7 linked regions of the Homo sapiens genome follow. The protein of the gene in region 2 purifies or fractionates together with the protein of the main gene of each other region. This does not show direct contact. Each region holds a gene or a part of one and is shown on either strand. Other genes may lie near its edges.

The links.
Region 1: the proteins of MYSM1 (region 2) and RIPK4 purify together in Homo sapiens (affinity purification with mass spectrometry, with the first as the bait; one large-scale study listed by BioGRID). This does not show direct contact.
Region 3: the proteins of MYSM1 (region 2) and NKAP purify together in Homo sapiens (affinity purification with mass spectrometry, with the first as the bait; one large-scale study listed by BioGRID). This does not show direct contact.
Region 4: the proteins of MYSM1 (region 2) and C2CD3 purify together in Homo sapiens (affinity purification with mass spectrometry, with the first as the bait; one large-scale study listed by BioGRID). This does not show direct contact.
Region 5: the proteins of MYSM1 (region 2) and AKR1C3 purify together in Homo sapiens (affinity purification with mass spectrometry, with the first as the bait; one large-scale study listed by BioGRID). This does not show direct contact.
Region 6: the proteins of MYSM1 (region 2) and CTSZ purify together in Homo sapiens (affinity purification with mass spectrometry, with the first as the bait; one large-scale study listed by BioGRID). This does not show direct contact.
Region 7: the proteins of MYSM1 (region 2) and STK38 purify together in Homo sapiens (affinity purification with mass spectrometry, with the first as the bait; one study listed by BioGRID). This does not show direct contact.

Annotation. Positions count from the first base shown.
Region 1 is NC_000021.9:41,753,553-41,757,052, forward strand, and holds part of RIPK4 (receptor-interacting serine/threonine-protein kinase 4), read right to left. Parts: intron 3,265-3,500; coding exon 2,973-3,264; intron 1-2,972.
Region 2 is NC_000001.11:58,693,563-58,697,062, forward strand, and holds part of MYSM1 (deubiquitinase MYSM1), read right to left. Parts: intron 1,646-3,500; coding exon 1,567-1,645; intron 1-1,566. UniProt on the Homo sapiens protein: Metalloprotease with deubiquitinase activity that plays important regulator roles in hematopoietic stem cell function, blood cell production and immune response.
Region 3 is NC_000023.11:119,933,752-119,937,251, forward strand, and holds part of NKAP (NF-kappa-B-activating protein), read right to left. Parts: intron 2,932-3,500; coding exon 2,861-2,931; intron 2,681-2,860; coding exon 2,546-2,680; intron 807-2,545; coding exon 743-806; intron 1-742. UniProt on the Homo sapiens protein: Acts as a transcriptional repressor. Plays a role as a transcriptional corepressor of the Notch-mediated signaling required for T-cell development. Also involved in the TNF and IL-1 induced NF-kappa-B activation.
Region 4 is NC_000011.10:74,014,003-74,017,502, forward strand, and holds part of C2CD3 (C2 domain-containing protein 3), read right to left. Parts: intron 1-3,500. UniProt on the Homo sapiens protein: Component of the centrioles that acts as a positive regulator of centriole elongation.
Region 5 is NC_000010.11:5,097,414-5,100,913, reverse strand, and holds part of AKR1C3 (aldo-keto reductase family 1 member C3), read right to left. Parts: intron 3,481-3,500; coding exon 3,364-3,480; coding exon of another isoform or gene 3,316-3,363; exon of another isoform or gene 2,738-3,315; intron 2,113-2,737; coding exon 2,035-2,112; intron 1,588-2,034; coding exon 1,465-1,587; intron 1-1,464. UniProt on the Homo sapiens protein: Cytosolic aldo-keto reductase that catalyzes the NADH and NADPH-dependent reduction of ketosteroids to hydroxysteroids.
Region 6 is NC_000020.11:58,997,255-59,000,754, reverse strand, and holds part of CTSZ (cathepsin Z preproprotein), read left to right. Parts: intron 1-3,001; coding exon 3,002-3,152; intron 3,153-3,500. UniProt on the Homo sapiens protein: Exhibits carboxy-monopeptidase as well as carboxy-dipeptidase activity. Capable of producing kinin potentiating peptides.
Region 7 is NC_000006.12:36,537,480-36,540,979, forward strand, and holds part of STK38 (serine/threonine-protein kinase 38), read right to left. Parts: intron 3,311-3,500; exon of another isoform or gene 3,122-3,310; intron 2,729-3,121; 5' UTR 2,724-2,728; coding exon 2,593-2,723; intron 1-2,592. UniProt on the Homo sapiens protein: Serine/threonine-protein kinase that acts as a negative regulator of MAP3K1/2 signaling. Converts MAP3K2 from its phosphorylated form to its non-phosphorylated form and inhibits autophosphorylation of MAP3K2.

The sequences.
Region 1 (3,500 bases), on a different chromosome or scaffold from region 2:
ATCTTCCCACCCAAGCTGCCCCTCACCCCGTGTCCTCAACAGCGAGCTACTGTGGCATCCACTCTGACCAGCAAATGCTTCAAGAGTTACAAACACTCTCATCAGCACCCGACTCTGCATCTCCAAGAGCTGAGGGCTCACAGCTGCCCCCAAGCACATGGCCCTTCAACTTCAAGGTCCAGCTGTCAAGACTAAGAAAGCAGCCTGCCGGGGTTTTGCTGCCTCTAAAAGAAAGACACAGCAGAACGTGACCCGCGTGTGACCCTTTGAAAAGCGTCTGTTTTGGGCTAACTGGACATATAAATGCAGCCTGAGATTTTAAACCAAGTTATTTCATTTTTAAGTTGAAATTGATTCCAACTAGTATCTTAATATTGGTATTTAGTATATGTAATGTTGAATAATATCAAGCATTAATTTGATACTATTACTTTGTATACTATTTACATTTAACTGCTTCATGAAGTAGACAGTTGCTGTGATATTTCCAGTTTGAATCGAGCCCTGAGCACTGAGGGAGCCCATCTCAGAGGCGAATGGCAGCACTGGAATGGCAACTTAGGATCTAATTGCAGGATTCTGGATTACAGTTTTCCTGCATTGAATAACTGTCTACTGAGGACTGCCCAGAAGCCCAGTGGTCAGTCCATGCAAAGCTTCCACACTTCGTCTTCAGGAACAAAGGCGCTGACTCTCAGAACCCCGACACACACTCCCTGCTGCACTCTACGCACACCAGTAGCTATTTCACAGAAAAAATAAGTATGTCACGTAAAGGTATTTTTCGGTTTGTTTTTGGGCTTCTTGATGGTGACTAACATGCCTGATTAAGAAGGACGCCACACAAAAGCAATCTTTCCTGCGGCCTGTCAGGGTACACAGGGCCCTAAGATGTCCCAGGGGCACCACACAGAGATGTCCTGTCACTTCCTGGCCAGCACCCAGCGTGCCTTCGACAGCAGCCTCCCTGAGAAAGCAGTTCCAGGCAGCATCCGCCCCCTGCAGCTGTCCTGAAAGACAGGGAAGCCCTGCTGCCTGCTGCCCCTGCAGGAAGGCCCAGAGCTCTCTGCGTCTCTTGGGCTGTTTCCTTCACCTAAAGGCTCTGCTGCTGCCTGCCCCGACTCCTGAGGGCAGAAAAGCCCCACCCTGTGTGAAGGCCCAGCCCCAGGAGCACTCCCACCCCCTCCCACAGGGCCGCCTCTAGGCCCAGCCTGCGGGCCACACACCCTGCCCCCAAGTGACTGCTACGTGCAGTGGTCATTTGGTTTCTTTCATGTCAAGCACAGTGGCAGGCCAGGTGGAAATCAAGGTCTCTGCTCCGTGACTTACAGCTGGACGATCCTGGCTGCTAATTTACTCACTCTAAGCAGAGACTCAGCGAGAACCAGAGGCCACCGTCCACTCTGCACCTCTGCTCTGAGGATGAGGGCAGCTCCCGCAGGTGAAGCCTCTAGCATGTCCTTTCCGGTATTCAGTGCACGTTGGACGGCAGAGCTTACTAGTCATTAGGGCCCCAGAGCCTGTGCTACCTAGAAACAAGCCCGTAAATGTTGGCGGGAATGGGGGGTCCGCATGTGAGGCCCAGCCCTGCCCATCACAGGAAACGGGAATCCCAGGGGTCCCAGAACATAAGCAGATGCGGGAAACCACCAGAGAGCCCGTTCAAGCCAAGTCATTTGATTTTTGTCTCCATTATCTCAATTTCCTACTTCACTTCGCAGGACGGTGCTTCATCTTCTAGCTGAAATCTTATTACTGCGCAACACCTACCTAAGAGACAACTTATAATTACTGCCCGAAGTGAAAAATTGACCTCCTCACCACCGCCCTGGCTGAGCAAGGCACGCGAGATGCACTCGTCCGCAGAGTCTGGGCACAGGGAGCGGCCGTGCGCATGCCATACGAGCCACCGCTCCCGTCCCACCCAAGAGCTCAGGGGCAGGGCCGGGCCCTGAATTCAGGTCTCTCCTAATTAATGGTCAGGCCATCAGAGAGGCCTGGAAGTGCTGTGCCACCAGGAACAGTAGCACAGCCAAGCCAGGCAGGGGACTCCTCTGCTTGTCCCCTGCATGAACTACATGGATCCGGACCATGGCTCTCGGCTCCTTCTCACTCCCAGGGCAGACACCAGTGTCATGTGGACCAGCCTATCACCCTGGGCCTCCCAAGAGCATGTGAACATCACCACGTGGGGAAAAACTACAACGCGCCAGGTGTAACCACCACATGTCAACGACAGTACAACCCTAGCCACGAAGGCCATCAAAGGAGATACAAGGAAATACAGCCCTGATGCAAAGGTGATGATGCTAACACCTGCCAAGGCCCAGAGGCAACACTGGTTTTCAGTTACATTATCTCTCTTACTTTTCTGTGTTTCAAAAACCTATCAGCGAAGCAAAAGCAAGCTCCATCTCCCAGGCGTTGCACTAACGCAACACGCTGCCACTCCGCACTCTACGCAGGGGCAGACAGAGGCAACGAGCCCCTCCTCACAAGCCTCTTTCCACAGCACTTTGAGGACCCCACTGCAGAGGACCCCCACATTCCCACCACCCCGAGCTCCTGAAAACACTGAGGGAAATGCGTCCCTTTGTTGCAGAGCCTAAGGTCTCGCAAGGACACACCTGGCCCACGGGCTGAATTCTAACCTGATTTCATAAGACCAAAACCCACAAACCCGTAATCTTTTTCCGGAATGAGTCATATGCCAAGATTTGGGGGAACAGCCCCCATGTTCACCAAGCTACCCTCCAGCTACATGGCGTGTGGTTTTCATACCAACCAGGACAAGCTTAGGCTCCTGGAGTCCTCATGCTGCAAAAGGCCTCGGTTTCAAGCTCTTTCCTCCAAGAAGAACCACCTCCTCTTCTGCCCTTGTCCTGACCTCAGGGCTTGACCCCTTGATACCCTGCTCCCCAAGACACAGGCCCTCCCTGCCCAGCTCTCTCGGGCACCGTGCGGCCCCCCACCTTGACGTGGTAGTGGGCATCCAGCAGGATGTTCGCGGGCTTGAGGTCCAGGTGCAGGAGTGGCGGGGCCATGCAGTGCAGGAAGTTCATGCCCACCGCCGTCTCGTGGATGATTCGGAACCGGAGATCCCATGGCAATGGCTCCGAAGCCAGCAGCTTTTCCAGGGAGCCCGTCTCCATGTACTCCATGACCAGGCCGACAGGTTCGCGGCAGATGCCATACACAGGCAGGATGTAGCGAAACTTGGCCATCTCCATCTTCTTGGCTTCTTCCAAAAGCTCCATGCGCTCCCTGAAAAAGTTCAAAGGCATGAAGAATACGCAATGGTCACTCAGCCACAAACATGGAACAGCACCCTGGCCAGAAGACGACCAGCTCCAGAGGGCTGAGCAAATGCCTCAAGTGCACACACATGGGGCACACTTCAATGTCACATCACGAATGCAGGGCTTTCCAGAGTCTCAGTCCTGAGGCTGCTGAAATGTACCTATGCATCACAGGGTTATCACAAGTGAGGAGGAGGGAAA
Region 2 (3,500 bases):
CAGGAATCATTGTGGATTCTTTCCTTTTCCTTTGATGCCCATATCCAATCTATCAACCAGTTCTACCTCCAAAATATAATTCAAATCTATCTACTCTATCTCTTCTGCTACTACCTCAGGCCAAGTCCCAATCATCAAATCTTGCTTCCATTACCGTGAATGTTTCCTAACTGGTCCCTTTAACTCCACTCTTACTTCCCTCCAATCTTTACCACAGTACCCAAAATTAATTTTATAAAAATAAATTTGCTAATCTCTATTAAATCTATATGAAATGTTTCAATGATGTCCCAGTTCCTTTAAAACAAAATGTAAACCCTTTAGCATAATCCGACTCATAAGTCCTGCATGACAGAACTCTAGCCTGCCTCTCCAACCTTGCCACATGCTGCCACTCCTTCCTTTCCCACCATATTCTAGACACTGGCCTTCAACCAGAGCTTCTGTAGTTGCTGTTCCTTCTGCCTATAATTTTATTTTAACTGTTCACATATCTACCCTTTTTCCCATCATTTTCAACTTAAATCTCACCTCCTCTGAGATTCCCTCACTGACAATTTAATCTAAACTAGGTTTCCCACTCTGGTACTCTCATTCAGCATCTTGCTTATTTCCTTCAAAATCTATTATTAGTTTGTCTACCTGTTTATTACTTAACTCCCTCTTAGAAAATAAACTTCTTGAGAGCAGGAACACGTCTGTCTTCATTGTAGTCGTATTCTCCAAGCCTGACCTACTGACTGGCACCGAGTAAGTACTCAATAAGTAACTACTACATGGCCGGGCGCGGTGGCTCACGCCTGTAATCCCACCACTTTGGGAGGCTGAGGCGGGCGGATCACGAGGTCAAGAGATCAAGGTCAGCTTGGCCAACATGGTGAAACCCCGCCTCTATGAAAAATACAAAAATTAGCTGGGCGGGGTGGCACACGCCTGTAGTCCCAGCTACTCGGGAGACTGAGGCAGGAGAATCACTTGAATGTGGGAGGCAGAGGTTGCAGTGAGCCGAGATCACGAAACTGCAGTTCAGCCTGGCGACAAAGAGACTGCATCTCAAAAAAAAAAAAAGTAACTACTACATGAAGAAATAAGCCCTGTGACAATCCCATTTTTTTTTTCTCTTTGAGACCGGGTCTCATTCTGTTGCCCAGGTTGGAGAGCAGTGGCACAATCAGAGCTCACTGCAATCTCAAACTCCTGGGCTCAAGGAATTCTCCTGCCTTGGCTTCTCAAAGCACTGGGATTATAGGCAGGAGCCACCTTGCCCACCTACCACTTTTTTAGGTGTAAAGAAACTGAAGTTCACAAATTTGAGAAGTGGTAGAGCAAAGACCTGTACCTAAATCTAGCTGGCTCCAAACCTGTTTCTCAACAGGCCATTTTTCAATGTCAAAAGAAAGAGGTTTCTATTTTTAAAGTAAAAAAAAATTCTAAATTTCTAAAAAAGAAAAATATTATATCTGTGATAGTTGAGAACTAGCACTAAGTTTAAAAAAAAAAAAAGAAGAAGCACTCTAGGCAATAAATAACAGCTTAATGCACCTGATATTTTTATAAAATACTTACAATAAGGCCATTCTCTGTTCTCCAAGATGAATCAAGATAGTGATCTTTTTGTAAAACTGATGCTGTATTTTCACCACTTCTGTAATAATTAAGAAAATGAGTATATAAGTGAAAATCATATTAGTTAATGAATGTAACTTACACAGCACAGAATCCAGCAGGTAGTAAGGGAACTAAGCAAATACTTAGTTCCCTTCTCCCCTTAACAAACAGATTTAACATTGTGGAAATGCCTGCTCTACCTCTTTGGCCTGTGAAACACGTGGTAGTGCTAAGCTACCCCATCTCAATTGTGAAACATCAAGTCTGACTGCTCACTTCTTTTGGTTCTCGAGAATAAACAATCTCATGAGGAAAACAATACCCCAAAGCAGCAATCACAACATGCTCTGTGACTTGAACCAACAATGCAGTTTCAGCTGATTAGTACCAGTACCCATGTGTATACAGGAATTCAACTTTGTGATTAAACCTTTTAGCTGTATCTAAATTATAAAAACCACCATCAATAGCACCACCTATAAAATGAAAGAAAAAAAAAAAACTAGATGAGAGAACCAAAACAGAAAATACTCAAAGAAGGACAGTACAGTGAATAGATAAGAAAAATGTGGTTTTAATAACAACTCATATAATTTAAAAAATTAATTTGATTTGGACGCTTTTCAATGTCCATGGGAGATCAAACTTTTTAAATTATCTCACTCGTTTCATTAAGCTCCTAAGAGCTCTTTAAAGTTACATTGTTTACCCCATATTTGAAAAGGCTGAGTAAGTTTTGGGGGGCTCAATCCATGATATAAATTTAATATTTTGCTTCGTTATTGACTTTTTCTAGACCTTGTCTAGTGATAAGAATTTTCCATCTCTAAGACTGCAAAAACCTTTCAACAGGCTTATAAATCTGAATCTTTAATTAGGCAGTAGTTATAATAAATTGTGGGGCTAATGAACTATTCTCTAAAAGCAATCATTTCTCTCAACTGTTGATGGTAAATAGATTTAATCTTAAATGTCAACTATGATCTGGAAGAGGCTACCAGGAAGGGTAAATAAAGGATTCTGAGACTTTTATCAGCTCAAAGAAACCTTTGCTCAAGTAACTAGGTCTGCCAAGAGTTCAGAAAATAGAACCACTATCATTTCAAATTCACTGTAGAAATCTTTTTATTCCTCAATAAGAAGAATCAGCAACACTCATACTCTGGTAGCTACTTCTGGATCTCTACCTGAATCTCCATAGGTACCACATATTAGCATGTTTAAAGCTTGAAATCACCTTTCCTCCCAAATCTGCTACTCTTCTATTGTTCACCATCTCACTCAGTGGCACCACCATCTCCGTAGTTATCCAAGCCAGAAATCCAAGCCTGACCATTTTCTTCACAACCCCCATTTAATCTGCCCTAATTCTGCTGTTTCTCCCATTTTCCAAATCCAGTCCTTCCAGTATTTTCATACTACCTCTGAGGTCCTGTAGTTTCCAATCTTATATAATTTTCCTGGATAAATGTAAAAGATAAAGCTGACAAACCATTCACCTCCCCTCCTTTATCTTTCTCCACCCATCTCCATCTGACATATATATAGGATTGCTGTCTATGTTATCTAACAAGAATGTTCTATGAGAGCACAGACTTGGTTTTGATACACTGTTGTATATCAGTGCATGGCATGTAGAAGGTACTCAATAAAAATTTGTTGGACTAAATGAACAAGGTAGGTAGGGCGTGGATCACTCAGATCTCTGGTAGTTAAAGAATGAGGATTTTATCAAAAAACCAACTGGGGAGTGAAGAGAATAATATGATCAGATCTGGATATAAGAAAGATTACTCTGACTTCAGACTAGAACAGAATGGGGCCAAGGAGACGAGGAGCAGTTAAGAGGGAGAGATTTTAAAAATACTAGAGAAAGGTGACAATAACTTATA
Region 3 (3,500 bases), on a different chromosome or scaffold from region 2:
CAAGCGATCCTCCTGCCTGGCCTCCCAAAGTGCTGAGATTACAGATATGTGCCACTGTGCCTGGCCAGTTTTTTGTTTTGTTTTGTTTTAAAGAATGCCTATCTTTGTGAACCCGGGAGGCGGAGCTTGCAGTGAGCCGAGATCGCGCCACTGCACTCCAGCCTGGGCGACAGAGCGAGACTTCATCTCAAAAAAAACAAAACAAAACAAAAAGAATGCCTATCTTTTAGAGAAAGGTACTGAATTGCTTATGGATGGAATGATATCTGAGATTGGGTCCAAAATAAATGATGGATGGCAGATACTGCCCATGAGTTGATAATTATTTAGACTGCATGACAGGTGCAGGAAGGATCATTATACTATTTTATGTAATTTTATATGCATTTGAAATTTTCTGGCCGGGTGCAGTGGCTCACTCCTGTAATCCCAGCACTTTGGGAGGCCAAGGTGGGAGGATCACTTGAGGTCAGGAGTTCGAAACCAGCCTGGCCAACATGGTGAAGCCCCATCTCTACTAAAAACACAAAAATTAGCCAGGCATGGTGGTGGGTGCCTATAATCCCAGCTACTCGGGAGGTTGGGACATGAGAATCGCTTGAACCTGGGAGGCGGAGGTTGTAGTTAGCTGACATCGAACCACTGCACTCTGTTGCCTGACAGAGTGAGACTCTGTCTCAAAAAAAAAAAAAAAAAAAAAAAAAGAAAAGAAATTTTCCATAATAAAACTTAAAAAACTGACGATCTGTGTTTCTTCTTCTTTTCCTTTTTCTTGGCTTTCTTTGCTCTCCTTTTGTTATCTTCATCTGCAAATTAAAGCACATTACAATTAAGAAAAAAATTTTTTAACTCTAAAACCGTAGTACTTTTGAGTAGGTAACTATCCTATTGCTGTCCCATTTATTGTTACAAAGAAATTACCTCATTGAAACATTTATTGCTATTTGTCACGAACTGTAGGGAGGTACTATGAACATAGAAATTAAAGTCACTAGGTTTTGATGATATAGGGTATTATTATTAATTTTATTGTGTGAGATAGTGTGGTGGCTAATTAGGAAAATGCCTCTTTTTACGGGATGCATACAGAAATATTTAGGGTGGAAGTGTGATGATATTTGTAATTAACTTTGACTATCTCAGTGAAAAACCCATATTTGAAGCAAATATGTAAAAATACCAACAACTGCCAAATCTAGGTGATTAAGTATATGGTATTAATTATACTATTCTCTTCGCTTTTCTGAATATTTAAATATTTTTGTGATAAAAAGGGAAAGAAAACTATGTGTGTGTTGGAGAGGGGAGAGAGAATCCTTTCCTGGAGCTCAGTCTAATGGAGGAGACAGATAGGTAAAGAGATCAATACAATCTGGAATGATAGAGGGAAGCTTGGGGAACCTGGACACACAGAGGAGTCTCAAAATCAGACTGATTTGAGGAGGGTGGCTGAGGAATGGTTGATCAGGAAAGGTGACTCTTAAAGTAGTTCTTTGATTACAAAAGTAATGCATGCCCATTGGTGCAATGAGTAAACCAAGCTGGATGGAGGGAGAGACTGGCATTGTAGGCAGAGGGCCTCTCTACCAAGTAACAAGAGAAAGAACATGGAATACTGAGGAGACAGAAAGTAGTTTTCAGATTACAGAGGATGTTGCAAGAGAGTGTAACAGGGTATATGTGATTAGAGAGAAATGAGTCAGGGTCTGAACTTTACCCTGAAGGCTATGGAGTGCTATTGAAGGATTTTAAGTAGGTATTTGGTGTATAGGGTATTATTACTAATTTTATTGTATGAGATAGTGTTGTAGTTAAGTATAAAAATGCCTCTTTTTAAGTGTTGCATACAGAAATATTTGAAAGTTCTGTCTTCGAGCACTGAGGAAGAGAAGTGACAGGGAGGGCCAGGAAACTTCGGCGATATCAGAGGAAGGTGAATCTTTGTGTAATGTGTTAACCTCAGAGGAGGCACCTTCTGGTCAATCATCAGCCAGGAGAGAGTACAAAAAGGAGACTCTTTGTGATGCACTACCCCAGATAGGGTGCCTTCCACAAATAGGCAGCCAGCATGAAGTAGGCACTTTATGGCATACCTTTTTGAAAACTGTAGAGGTGCTCATTGGGCATGAGAATTAAACAAAAGAGCCCTTCCACTGGGCCGATGCAGCCCTGTAAGGCTTACTTTGGTACAGCCCAACCCCCTGACTTGGTCTGGTGCCATGTGCCTTGTACACTTTGCACAACCAATCCCAATCCGGAGTCAGATTGCTTAGGTTTGAATCCAAACTGTGTGACCTTAGGGATAGTACTTATAACCTGCTCTGTCTCCATTTCCTCATCTATAAGATGTACCCTACAGTTATTGTATGGATTAAATGGCAATAATAAATATAAAGCACTTATTGGGGTACCTGGCACAAGGTTAGCAAGTGTTCAAAAACTCTTCAGTATTATTATTGTTTTCAGGAACCTTCTTCTAAAATAAGTTTTAAGAAGTAAAACTAGTTTTGAAGCAAGGCTTGCAGAATGCTGTTGGCGTTCTTACCACTGGAGTCTGTTTCAGAATCAGAGTCACTGTCGCTATCTTCAGAATACTTCTTATGTTTTCTTTTCGATGATTTTTTCTTTCTCCTTTTCTTGGACCTTTCTTTTGAACGGCTAGACTTCTTCTTTTTTTCTTCTAAGAAAGTACAAATTAAAAAATTATATTCTAAAAAACTATTTCTGAACATCAAAAGAAACAGACGATGGGCAATTTGAGTAAAAGCAAAGTCTAATGTTCAACTATTTACAAACTGATTTTTTTAAATCTCTCAATAAAATAGCTTGTATTTTAAAAATACCCTTTTTTTAAAAATACCTTCTGAAGTAGAAGCTGAAGTAGTGCTTTTCTTTGGCTCTTCATCCTCCACTGGTGTATGTTCATCAGAACTGAATTTAAATAAAATGGTTATAAGAATTAGGAAAGTGATGAGATATGGACCATGGAGTGTAAAGATATGAACTCCAAATTTTTCAGTAACAGCATCGATTGTCCAAGAACCATTAAAAGCAAGCATTGGAGATCCTAAGGCAGAACTTGGGAATCAAAAAAACCAAAACAACAACAAAGCAAGCACTGAACTACTTTCATAAACGTGCAGTTCAAGGGTCTACCATCTTTGTAATAATAAAATAACTTATCATTTGCATAACACTTTAGAGTTTACATAGTACTATTTAAACAAAGCAGCATGGAGGATTTATATTTTCACAAGAAACCACAGGGAAAAAGTAGAGAAACAGGAACCATAGGAAAGATTAAAGAAACTGGGTATAAGAAGGCTGAAGAAAGACTTTATAATTTTATTTTAAGCACGTAAAAGACAAATGGTAAAGCAGCAACTGTTCTGTCTCCTCAGAGCAAAAACCTAACAAACTACAGTCTAAAGAGATGTTGTTCTGTTGCAGAGAATTCTGAAAATGAGTATTATTCAAATTCTACAATAGTTTAGAAAAGG
Region 4 (3,500 bases), on a different chromosome or scaffold from region 2:
CCTGGAGTTGCCAGGTGACATAAAGCACCTACCTACTGCTTGGCTACCAAACTTTGATCTCTCTGACTCTGGCTGACAGGGCATCACTAATTCCGCCTTTAAGGTACTTAAACCTGTGGGCTATGGTATCATGGTCCTCTGGACTCCTCTAACTCATTTTTCTTTCTTTTTTCTTACTCCATGTCAGGCTCCTGTGCTGAAGGAGCTCAAAGCTATACAGGAAAGCCATCCCAGACAGCTGGCTGAGAGCAAGGCCCTGGGGAAGAAGTGGGGGCCTGATAGGGGAGGGGGCAGTTCTGAAAGGAGATGGGAGCAGCCTCCACAGGCAAACCTGGCTGACTTCATGGCATGCAGCTTGCTCTTCCCTGTCATCAAGTCCCATGAGCTGAGGCTGTCATAAGCTGAAGGACTATTGAGAGCACACTGTACCACTTCCTGGGCACTGAGAAGAAGCTTGGTGGAGACCCTAGAGACTGGGACCACCTACCCCCTGCAGTTCTGCTCATGAGAAACTGAGGCCCAGCGAGAGTTGCGCCCAGCGAGAGTTGCGCCCAGCGAGAGTTGCTTCTGGCATCAGTAACATTCAGTTATTCTTTCTTTCATGTCTTCAATCTTTTTTAATACCTACTTGAGAGGGGCGCAGAAATAAACAGAACTCCGTTTTAGGCTTTCTCAGCTCAGAGTTAAGCCCTGGAGGCAGAGAGATCTGCCTAAAGAATTAGAATTGCCAGAATGAGATAAGGGGAGTGGAGTCAGGCATCCCTGATCTACTGCCTGGATGTCAGTTTCCCACCCATGAAATAGAAGTGTGGATGGGAAACCTTGAGGGTCCCTGCCAGTCTAGAATTCTAAGTGCCAAGGGAATGTCTACAATCTGGGAAGCTCTCAGTGCTATGAGCCCACAGGCAGCCTTTCCTTATAACCAAGAGCAAAGTGATACTAGGGCTGGGCTGCACAGCAGAGACTAGAAGATCTATCTCCCTGCCTTCTAGGCAGGTCTAGGCTAGAAGGGAAGAAGGAAACCCACTTTTTGCTGGTGTTTGCAGTTCTTCCTTCCAAAATACAGGAAGCACCTGCACTGCATGATGCCTCAGACCAGGGGAGGCCAGTGGCCAGCCTCTGCCTGTTGCTCTCCCACTTCCACACTGGGTGCTCCTGCAGGGCACGGCCTGGGTCTGAGGCTTGGGATCCCAGCGAGGCCAGTTCCAAGACAGGAGCCTGGGAGCTGCTAGACCAGTGTGGGTGGGACCAGGCCAGGGTAACCACAGGTTTAAATTGGGTGGGGAGGAGACTCTTTGTAGTAAGCTTCTCATTCATTCATTCTAGAACCAGTGGTTGTTGTCCTACCATATGCCAGGTCTTTAGTTAAGTTAAACTCTCTCAGGCTCTATGTAGCACTTTAAGCTTGTGTATATCTTTCTCTACTCCCAAGATCCAAGATGGCTGTTTCCTGAGCTATTTGGGATTTAGGATGACACAAGTCCCATTCCTGACCCCCAGCTGTACTGCAGGTAGATTTTCTGGGTCATCAGTTGTATCTTACCTTCCATTTCTTTCTCTGCTACTCTGAAGGGGAAGTAGGGAGATGTTTGTTTTATGAGCCAGATGGGAAAACAGGCCTTAGAGCATAGTATTCTATCTCAAATCCTAAAACCAGGCATTTGTTTCCCCATTTTCTAGAAGAGATGTCTTCTCTGTTTTAGAGAGACTTAGATGAGTCTTGTTCTCCATGGCTGGAAGGGCCAACTACCTCAGTTCATGAAATGACCATAAAAAGACCTCTGTTGGGCTGGGTAGCTCACGTCTGTAACCCCAGCACTTTGGGAGGCCAAGGCAGGGGGATCGCATGAGTCTAGGAGTTTGTGACCAGCTTGGTCAACATAGGGAAACCCTGTCTCAAAAAAAAAAAAAAAGGAAAAAAAAAATTAGCAGGGTGTAGTGGTGCACACCTGTGGTCCCAGCTACTCAGGAGGCTGTGGTGGGAGGATCGCTTGAGCCCAAGAATTCAAGGCTGCAGTAAGCCATGATCATGCTACTGCACTCCAACCTGGGTGACAGAGGAAGACCCTGTCTCAAAACAAAACACCTCTGTTGGTGACTCATCAAACTTTTCAGGAGCCTAAGATCTAATCAACTTGATCAACTCTTATGGACAACAGGCAGACGTGGTTCCTGTTGTCATAGGGCTGCTCAGCTAGAGAGAAGACAGACAATGAGCTACCCAACAATCACAGAGATGAAGCTTAGAGCTTGTGAGCACTGAGAAAATAGCAATTAGTAACAGCTGAGAAAGTCTGGGGCGGCTTCACAGGAGGTGGGCTCCAAGATGGGCAAGGTCTCAACAGAAGCTGGCTGTCAGGTGAGGTCTTTCATTAGAGGGAACAGCATGAGCACAGACCTACACCTACTGGCTGGGCCATATCTGCCCTGGAGCTGAATCGTGTGTGGCACCAACCTTCCAGCACTGATACCCTAACCCAATGACCTAGGGGGCCTTATCTGCAAGGCCCAGGCCCAGGAATCAGAACAAGGACAAGGACAGGGCTTGGCTCTGTGTACAGGGCAGGGGCGGGGTGTGGAAGGACAGAGAACTCACACTCAGCAGCATTTTGCTTTTGTTGACCTCAATAGGGTTTAGAAACCATCTTGACTAGTAGTGAAGATTCTTCCTTCATCAGGACTGCTACCCTAACACACAACCCTGGTGGGGTTGGCCAGAGGCGAAATTGGCCAGAGCAGGGATACCCTCAAATGTATCATCCATTCCTCTGAAATACTCCTACACTTCTGGCTGTAGACCTGAGGGCACAAGAAAGTTGTCAGCAGAACATGGGCTTTGTGGGAGGCATCAACCTTCCTGGGGAGGCAGGAGGAACACACATGGAAGCAGGATCGTCGTAGCTGGAGGGGCTGCAGGTGCCTTGGAGTCTAGACAGCGGGTGTCATCCATGGGGTGAAGTCCCTGGAGCGGGAACTTAAACATGAAGGTGGAATGTGAACAGACAATGAAGAGAGAGGGTATGCCACGTGGAGGTGCAGGTTTTGTGAGGAAGGAATTTTCTTTGCTAGGAAAGTGGTGGGGGTGGATAGGCTGAGCTGCAGGTATGGAGAACAGCCAAGACAAACCTATTACTAGAAGAGGGGTTGATGCTGGTTGAGGAAGTTCCAGAATGTCTGGGGGGAATTTGATCTTATTCTTCTTGGACTTCAGCGAGCTGATCTGTAAGGGCCTTCCCAGGGAACAGGGATGGGGTATTTGACGACTGTACTAGGCTGAAGGACAGAACTGGCTTTCCTGTGGACCGGGTGTCAAGCACGGCAGTAGGCCAGGGGCTTTCAGGCTGCCCCATTAAATCCTACCTCATCCATACATGGGACCTGTTCCTTTCTGAGTACCTGGACACCCAGGTCATGAACATGATAGGCCTCTCTGATAATAGATGTGTCTTAAAAGAGCCTTCAATGCTAAAGATCAGACTTTGCTGGGGAGAAAATGGAGC
Region 5 (3,500 bases), on a different chromosome or scaffold from region 2:
GCAGATATACCCACATAAACATTTGCCATAAATATTTGGCAATGTGGCAAAGTGTTAACAATTTTGAATATAAATGGTTATGTTGAATCGTGTATTATTTTTATCAAATTTTCTGAAAGTTTGAAAATTATCATAATAAAAAATTGAAGGACTAATATTAAAACTGCATTTTCTTAATGTTTCTATTTGGATATGATGGAACTGTATCATTAGGCCAAATTCACAAATTTTATACACTTCACATTTCAATGGTAGATCTTTACTCATTGGCTCTAAGTTGTATAAAAGAATAAAAAAGTGTAAATTAGCAAAAAGGTAGAGTGACTTTAATTTTGAATTTTTTTGTGACATTTGGGGGAAGTCAATTTGATCAAGGAGGCCTGGAATCATTAACAATAACTCAGGGGGAAAAAAGGACTTATCCCTAAGCTATGAAAAAACCATGCATAGAATAGATGTGTTTAAACAACTGATTGGATGACAGACCCCAAAGAGAAGTAGCAGACTAAGACATGGGCAGTGATAGGTCAGGTCTATGTTCTGCTAAAGTTCCTCAGTGTTGATTTCATCCACTGTGAACAGTTACCTCCATAAACAGGTAATTTTTCTCTTTTTTTTTGAGACGGAGTTTCACTCTTGTTGCCCAGGCTGGAGTGCAATGGCGTGACCTCGGCTCACCGCAATCTCTGCCTCCTGGGTTCAAGCGATTCTCCTGCCTCAGCCTCCCAAGTAGCTGGGATTACAGGCGTGTGCCACCAAACTCAGCTAATTTTTTGTATTTTTAGTAGAGATGGGCTTTCTCCATGTTGGTCAGGCTGGTCTCAAACTCCCAACCTCAGGTGATCCACCTGCCTTTGCCTCCCAAAGTGCTGGGATTACAGGCGTAAGCCACTGCACCCGGCCTAATTTTTCTCTTTCTGACATGGATGACTTTCATTGTCTGCAGCTAATTTTTAGTATATCTATGCCCCTGGTCAAGAATTGTTGAAACATCAAGAAGAGGCATTCAGACATCCAAATTCCATGTAAACCCCTAGCACCTCTCTTCTCTTATTCTAACTCTCTGTTCACGTACAGCTCATTTCATCTTTTCCTAGCTTCATATCTATACACCATTCCCTCCAAATCACCTTCACCCATGCACTTTCTGGTCATCTTTCATAGCTTAGAGGTAAGTCCACCTTTCCTTGAGTTCTAATTGATGATTCCAGGCCTCCCTGATCAAATGGACCTCCCCTAAATATTACACACGATTCAGCATTAAACTCATTCCAATTTTTCCCTAATACTTTTCCAAGCAGGGTACAAACAAGAAATCTTCACGCCTTTCTTGACAGAAGCTTTGCTCTCTAGATAATCTTCTACTTCACAAAGATAACTGGGACAAAACAAACAGATATTTGGCAATAGGACAGGAAGAGGGGGCATGAAGAACCGAAAGGAGAGAAGGCCAAGGGAGCTCACCTGGTTGCAGACAGGCTTGTACTTGAGTCCTGGCTTGTTGAGGATCATCTCCAGCTGCCTGCGGTTGAAGTTTGACACCCCAATGGACTTGGCCAATCCTGCATCCTTACACTTCTCCATGGCCTGTGGAGAAAGGGGTTGTGAGGAATTATTTGTGCAGTTGGCTGCAAATCACGGTAAATGCAAGACAGAACTGTGAGAGCAACAACTTTCAAAGTATGACAATGAAAATAGCTAGCAGTGATTGTCAAAAAAAGAAAAATTCAAACAGCAAATAGGGGAAGAAGATAGAGGCAGCAAGAGTAAGAATTTCTATCTCTTCCTTAGGAAACTGGATAGATTAATGCACAAGCAAGGAAAGAGATTCCTGTCCTCCTTGCCCCCAAGTCTTGTGCCCCACTCTCTAAACATTCCTTTTGTGTTTTTCCCTTCATCTCACCAAAGCTACTCTTGTAAAGTTTCTGAATTTCTAGATCTAATGGTGCATATTCCATTCTTTCCTATTGAACCTGGGAAACAGATTTTCTCTTTTTGTCATCCTTCTCTGTGTCCTCTCCGCCAAGCACTCACCTCCCAGGTGGTACAGAGATCCACTATGTCAAATATTACTTTTCCATTTTCATCTGTTGGTGAAAGTTCCTCACCTGGCTGAAATAGAAGCAGTCATTTTAATGATGTCACAAATTAATTTCTCCACTCATAGCTGTAACCCCAGGTACCTTTAAGGACACTAATCCTCCATGAGACAGGTGGTACAATGCTCCAGAAAGTGATATGTGCTAAGTGTTTTACATATGAAGGTATAAGGAATGTATTCAGGAGACAGGCTTCCTCTAATCTCTTACAAATATTATATGCATGGAAAAGGACCATTTTCTAGGTCTTAATCAAGTTTCACAGTTGACTTATGTCACTTTATTCCGCCCTTATAATTTCCTCTATTGAAGTACCTCTCTTTGATTTGGAAATACCTTGATATCCAAAAATAATGGATTGTACTCTTGTACACGGTAGGATTATCAGACCACCTGAAGAGTTGATAGTCTTTGGGCAGGACTGTGAATCACATAGGGTCAGCAGAAGTTGGGAGACCCAGAGGAGTTGTCTTATGGTGATGACCATGAGCCTTGAGCTGCTCCAAAGCCATAATCGCCACCAATGAAAAAGTTTGGGTCAACAATAATAAAAAAAAGTGTTGGAGTTTAGAGATAAGAATAGACAAATGATACATTTTTGTAGACTATTTCATATCCTTAAATGTAGCCATGTCTTTGACTTCCCATTTTACATAACTCAGTAAACTCTTTTGCATTAACTAGCCTGAGTAGTTTTCTGTAACTTTAAATCAAAAGTTATACACTACACAGTAATTCCTGGCTAAATACAGCTTCAAACTCTATTGTGAAAGAAGAGGCAGCAGAATAATAAAGCTTTGCAAGTCCACATTAAGGGTTTCTAATTTAAGAACCATGCATAGTGGCTTCCACCAAATCTGCTTCAGCTTGAAATGGGGAGAGATGGTGGAAACTCATTGTGCATCACATGTGCAGCAGTTTTATTGGGCACCACAACTGCATGAAACTCTGTGTCTGGGAACATCCCAAGAGATGGACTCAAAAGCCACAACTAAGACAGTGCCTTGAAAGAGACTATTGTAATTTCAAGTTTTTGAGGAAGAGGCTTTGAGGTTGCTGTACTCTCTTCTCTTGTAGGTGTGCATTAGAGAAGTAGGATTCAAAATTTACTCGAAAGAAAGGAAATTAGGTGTTCCACTTACGGTTCTTCTTCTGTGTGATAATCCCTACATCCTCCTAATAAAAAGCTCTGTTCAACTATCCAGATAAACAATGTTTATAATGACAGCAGAAGCGCAATTTTATGCTCATACAAACTGCATACCTTTAGAGACATTGGAGAATGAATAAGATAGAGGTCAACATAGTCCAATTGAGCTTTCTTCAGTGAGTTTTCCAAGGCTGGTCGGACCAACTCTGGTCGATGAAAAGTGGACCAAAGCTGCAGAGGTTAAAGAATGG
Region 6 (3,500 bases), on a different chromosome or scaffold from region 2:
TGTGGTGTTTGAGTTCTGACATGCTGGCATTTTGGTGGCTTTTTGGGCCTTTGTAGGGGAGAGGTGTAGGGGGCCTTGTGGAGGGAGAGTTCATTTTCCAGGAGCTTTGGTGGAGAGCAGGTGGGGAGGTGCTGCCCCAAACTGGAAGGAGCCATTGGCTTGGTTCCTGTTCTGGTGACCCAGGGCCCAGGTCCCCCACATTCAGGTGCGGCTACGGCCAAGGGGGTGCTGTGTGGATGAGCAGACCCAAGCTAGCCTGGAATCCCTAGAGCTGGCACATTCCTTTCAGGCTGCTCCCATTAGAAACAGAAGGAAAGAAAAGTCCAGACCCTAATCCCATAATTGGTAGGTTTTGTTTGTTTGTTTGTTTGTTTTTGAGAGGGAGTTTTGCTCTTGTTGCCCAGGCTGGAGTGCAATGGCACGATCTCTGCTCACTGCAACCTCCGCCTCCCGGGTTTGAGTGATTCTCCTGCCTCAGCCTCCTGAGTAGCTGGGATTACAGGCATGCGCCACCACGCCCAGCTACTTTTGTATTTTTTAGTAGAGACGGGGTTTCTCCATGTTGTTCAGGCTGGTCTTAAACTCCCAACCTCAAGTGATCCACCTGCCTTGGCCTCCCAAAATGGTGGGATTACAGGCATGAGCTGCTGCGCCCGGCCATAACTGGTAGTTTGTTTTTTTTTTTTGAGACGGAGTCTCGCTCTTTCGCCCAGGCAGGACTGCAGTGGCGCGATCTCGGCTCACTGCAAGCTCCGCCTCCCGGGTTCACGCCACTCTCCTGCCTCAGCCTCCGGAGTAGCTGGGACTACAGGCGCCCGCCACCGCGCCCGGCTAATTTTTTGTATTTTTAGTAGAGGCGGGATTTCACTGTGTTAACCAGGATGGTCTTGATCTCCTGACCTCGTGATATGCCTGCCTCGGCCTCCCAAAGTGCTGGGATTACAGGTGTGAGCCACCGTGCCCGGCCATAACTGGTAGTTTTAAGCCACCTGACTCAGATCTCCCTCACAGCCAGAGCAGAGAGCTGGGAAAGCCCAGCAGCTGCTTGCTTTGCTGCCTCCACCCCTGCCCCAGGCTATATAGGCTGGCCCCAGCGCCCTGTGCACTCTGAAGTGGCAGAAGGTCCTCTGGGCACCACCCTCTGCCAACGGGGCTCCCTTGCCTTGCCTCTCAGGCCTTATTGTTCAGCCAGAAATTCTCCTGGACTGGCTGAGTGAGTCCTTCGAGAAGGGGGACAGATGGAAGGTGCAGAGGGAAGGGCTATCAGATGGCTCTGGAAGCAGGAAGCAGGTATCAGGTGGTCTCCAGGGCCACGCCCACTCCACGCCAAAGTGCTCTCGCCCAGCTGAGGCCAGGCCCCTCCAACCCACCCAGCCTGACAGGAGCAGATGGAGCTCATCAGAAACCTGATTGTGTGACTGGTGACCGCGGTGGCTCACACCTGTAATCCCAGCACTTTGGGAGGCTGAGGCGGGCGGATCACTTGAGACCAGGAGTTCGAGACCAGACTGGCCAACATGGTAAAACCCTGTCCCTACTAAAAATACAAAAAATAGCCGAGCGCGGTGGCATGCGCCTGTAATCCCAGCTACTCAGGAGGCTAAGGCAGGAGAATCACTTGAACCCAGGAGGCAGAAGTTGCAGTGAGCCAGGATCATACCACTGAACTCCAGCCTGGGTGACAGAGTGAGACTCTGTCTCCAAAAAAAAAAGAAAAGAAAAGAATAAAAAAACCTGATTGCGATAAATAGTCATCTTTGTAGTGTTAGCAAAAGTGTGGCCACACATCCACCATTTTCCCGTAGTACTGGGCACTGGGCACTTGGTGTGCAAGGAACAAATTGAACCAGTGTCTGAGCCTCAAGGTGCTCATGTTCCTGGGGGAGGAATCCCGACAGATGTGTAACTATGACAGACAGGTCGCGCCAAAGCAGCGAATGGCAGGCCGAGGGCCGCCGTGTGGATGGAGTGAAAAGTGGGAACACAGTGACTCTGAGCCTTGCAAAACCGAGAGCTGTACTTTTTCTTTTTTTTAAATTAATTTATAAAATTTTTTTTCTGTAGAGATGAGGTCTCGCTCTGTTGTCCAGGCTGGTCTCAGACTCCTGGTATCAAGCCATCTTCCTGCCTCGGCCTCCCGAAGTGCTGGGATTACAGGTGTGAGCCACCACGCCTGTCCTTTCTTTCTTTCTTTCTTTCTTTTTTTTTGAGACGGAGTCTCGCTCTTGTCGCTCAGGCTGGAGTGCAATGGCGCGATCCTGGCTCACTGCAACCTCTGCCTCCCGGGTTCAAGCGATTCTCCTGCCTCAGCCTCCACTGAGTAGCTGGGATTACAGGCATCCACCACCACACCCAGCTAATTTTTGTACTTTATTAGTAGAGACAGGGGTTTCACCATGTTGGCCAGGCTGGTCTCAAACTCCTGACCTCAGGTGATCCACCCACCTCGGCCTCCCAAAGAGCTGGGATTACAGGCGCCTGGCCCTCTTTATTTTATTTTTTAAGCCTAATTCTTGATAACCTCTTAAGTCGAAATAACCAGAATTTTTTTTTTTGGTCCCCTCAGCGTGGGCACAGAAGAAAATGCTTTTTTGTGGTTGTTGTTACCCAAAGTATTGGCCTATTTATTCACCAGCCAGCAATAGAGACATTTTATTAAGTGCTAATCATTTGATTATGCTCCATTTTCAGCTAGAAAGTATTGTGGAAAGGTCCTTCTCCAGCCATTAGAGGAAAAAGGCGAACTCCTGGGTGCCTACTATGTGCTAATTAATGTCTGTCTCTTTTCTTCTCTGCCAAGGCCTGGGGAAGGGCTTTTCATAACTCCCTGGCAGCTGAAAGAAGAGCGTCATTAAGCAGCACCTAATAGCAAGATGATTTCCGTTCTTAGCTGCTGAGTGGTAGGCTGCATGATGAGAGTGGAGAGTGGGCTTGGCGGGCTTCTTTGTCAGTGGGTTGATGAGGAGACGGCCTCATGCTGACTTTTCTTGCTCTCCCCCAGAGTGTGACAAGTTTAACCAATGTGGGACATGCAATGAATTCAAAGAGTGCCACGCCATCCGGAACTACACCCTCTGGAGGGTGGGAGACTACGGCTCCCTCTCTGGGAGGGAGAAGATGATGGCAGAAATCTATGCAAATGGTCCCATCAGGTGAGGAGAGGTCCCGCGGGCAAAGAGAGGTTTGCGGGTGAGGAAAGGTCCCGCGGGTGAGGAAAGGTCCCGCGGGTGAGGAGAGATCCGCGGTGACAGCGCCAGTGTGGGCTCATGTCGGTGCTCATGTAGGCATCTCCGTCCTTCGCCACTTTCCTTCTGGCCGGTTGTACTCAGTAGGCTCGAGACAGCCACATCATTTCCCCTCTAAGAACTTCAGTTTTCTCAGAGTTAACACTCAGCTGATAGCAAGTCTGCCCCTATGGATGGTTGTGCGGAATGCGGATGAGACGCTCCAAGCTGTACCGAGGGGGCAGTTTCAGCAGGGAAGACACTATGTGAATAACA
Region 7 (3,500 bases), on a different chromosome or scaffold from region 2:
CTGAAAAGAACCCAGGTGTTTATCAATAGGAGAATGGACAAACAAAGATATAGTCAGAAGACAGAATAGTACCAACAATAAAAAGGAACAAATTATTGATGCATATAGCAACACAGAGGAACCTCAAAAATATGCTGGCCAGGTGTGGTGGCTCACACCTGTAATCCTAGCACTTTGGGAGGCTAAGGTGGGAGGATCACTTGAACCCCGGAGTTCGAGACCAGCCTGGACAACAAAGTGAGACCCTGTCTCTACAGAAAATTTTAAAAATTAGCCAAGCATGGTGGCATGCACCTGTAGTCCCAGCTACTTGGGAGGCTGAGGCAGGAGGATCGCTTGAGCCTGGGAGGTCAAGGATGCAGTAAGCTATGATAGTGCCACTGCACACCAGCCTGGGCAACAAAACAACACCCCGTCTCGACAAAAAAAAAAATATGCTAAATGAAAGATGCCTTGCTCAAATGAGTACATACTACATGTTTCCATTTATGTGTTCCACTTGTATGAAATAGGCAAAACTATGATAGAAACAAAATCACAACCAGGCACGGTGGCTCACGCCTGTAATCCCAGCACTTCAAGAGGCTGTGGCAGGTGGATCACGAGGTCAGGAGACTGAGACCATCCTGGCTAATACAGTGAAACCCCGTCTCTACTAAAAATACAAAAACAAAATTAGCCGGGCTTGGTGGCAAGCGCCTGTAGTCCCAGCTACTCGGGAGGCTAAGGTGGGAGAATGGCGTGAACCTGGGAGGCGGAGCTTACAGTGAGCCGAGATCACGCCACTGCACTCCAGCCTGGGCAACAGAGTGAGACTCCGTCTCAAAAAAAGAAAAAAAGAAAAAAAAAAAATCACAACAGTGGTTGTCTTTGTCTAAGGTTGAAGAACCAAGAGGCATGAAAACTTTTTCTGGGAGACGTAATGTTCTGTTTTGATAAAGGTTTAAGTTATACAAGTGTATGCAATTGTCAAAACTCATAAAATGGTACCCTTGAACTTGTGCATTCCATTGTATATAAATTTTACACCCTTCCCCAAAAAGTATAAATACTGAATTCTAGTTAATGTTATATAAGCAGAAATATTCAGAAGTATACTGATGTCTACAACATACCTTGAAGTGAGGCAAAAAATTAAGATGGATTGGCCGGGCACAGTGGCTCACGCCTATAACCCCAGCACTTTGGGAGGCCAAGAGGTCAAGAGATCAAGACCATCCTGGCCAACACAGTGAAACCCTGTCTCTACTAAAAATACAAAAATTAGCTGGGCGTGGTGGCGCATGCCTGTAATCCCAGCTACTCGGGAGGCTGAGGCAGGAGAATCACTTGAACCCAGGAGGCAGATGATGCAGTGAGCCAAGACCACGCCACTACACTCCAGCCTGGGTGACAGAACAAGACTCTGTCTCAAAAAAAAAAAAAAAAAAAAAGGAAATTAAGATGGATTAATGACAGATACAAGAATGGATAGATGGATATGCAGTTAAACAAATATAATAAATAACCATTATAGACTCTAGATGATATATATGTATATATTCACTGTTTATTACAAGTTTTCTGTACTTCTGAATACTTTCATAGTAAAATATTGGGAAAAATTTTTTTTTAATTATGAGTTACAGCCAAGCAGTGGCTCATGCCTGTAATCCCAGCACTATGGGAGGCCGAGGCAGGTGGAATGCCTGAGGTCAGGAGTTCAAGACCAGCCTGGCCAACATGGTGAAACCCCGTCTCTGCTAAAAATACAAAAATTAGCCAGGCGTGGTGGCTCACACCTGTAGTCCCAGCTACTGAGGAGGCTGAGGCACGAGAACCGCTTGAACCCAGGAGGCAGAGGCTGCAGTGAGCTGAGATCATGCCATTGCACTCCAGCCTGGGCAACAGAGTGAGATTCGATCTCAAAAAAAAAAAAAAACCAATAAATAAATTATGAGTTACTAAGTGGACAGTATACACCAGATCAGTAATAACAATAGCTGATACTACCACCATTAACTAAGTGACTACTATGTGTGAAACACTATGGTACATACTCACATATGTTATATCTAATCCCCAACACAATCCTGCAAGGCAAGTAGTATTATCCCCATTTTCCTGATGAGGGAACCAATTCACAGAAAGACTAAGGAACTTATTAGAGCTTCATACAGCTATTCAATGAAACTGGCAGGACTCTAAACCCAAGTCTGACTCCAAAAGGGCTGCTATTCCATTATACCACTCTGCCTTAACAATCAACTCCTTGGATTGGGCCTAATTTTTTTTTTTTTTTTTTTTTTAAGATACAGAGTCTCAGTGTTGCTCAGGCTGGCCTCAAATTCCTGGGCTAAAGCAATCCTCCCAACTCAACCTCCCAAGTATCATTTTTTTTCTTGGATTTCAATAGAAGTTTGTGTTATTGACTTGTAGGCATAAGTGGGTTAATGGCAGGGACTTTGAAAAGCCCTTTCACTGTCATTCCATTATGATAGTCTATAATAAGGCTGCTACTATTCTTGTCTCCTTTCAGCATTATAAGTGTTTTACAATACGAGAAAGGAATGCCACAACCATGACACAATTTTTTCAAACAAAATTCTTTACCTCATTTCTCGTTCTTCATGTTGAGCGATAAGGTTGCTATAAAAATTCTCCAGTGTCACTTTGGTCATTGTCACCCTTTCCTTTGTGTGGTTACTCATGGATGAGCAAGGTGTTGAGCCTGTCATTGCCATGGCTGCTAGAAACAAAGAAAAGAAGAGGTGTTAGATTTGGAGTTAGAATCCACCCAGTGTGCACTCTCCTACCCTATTGGTAGGAATGTAAATTGGTGCAAGTTTTCTGGAGGACAAACAGGTAATATGTAACAAAAGCCAGAGAAAGAGAATACTTAGTGAAAATAAATATAAATTACTGTCCTATGACCCAGAAATCCCACCCCTAGGTATAAAGACTAAAGAAACCGTCACACAGGCTTCTAAAGTGACATACACAGGATGTTCAGCACAGAGAGGATGTTCATCATGCCTTAATTTGTGTTATGGGAAGTTGGAGGCACTTAAGTAAGAAAATAAAGAGCTGTGGCTGCATAGGAAATACCATGCAACAACCAGAAAACCAGAAGCAACTTTACCTGTACCTGTAAGTCACACAAATATATCTTTTTTTTTCTTTTTGAGATGGAGTTTCGCTCTTGTTGCCCAGGCTGGAGTGCGACAGGATGATCTTGGCTCACCGCAACCTCCACCTTCCAGGTTCAATCGATTCTCCCACCTCAGTTTCCCGAGTAGCTGGGATTACAGGCATGCGCCACCACACCTGGCTAATTTTGTATTTTTAGTAGAGACGGGGCCACCTCGGCCTCCCAAAGTGCTGGGATTACAACTGTGAGCCACCGCGCCTGGCCCACACAAATATATCTTTATTTATTTATTTATTTGTTTGTTTTTGAGAAGGAGTCTCGCTCTGTCGCCCAGGCTGGAGTGCAGTGGCGCGATCTCCGCTCATTGCAA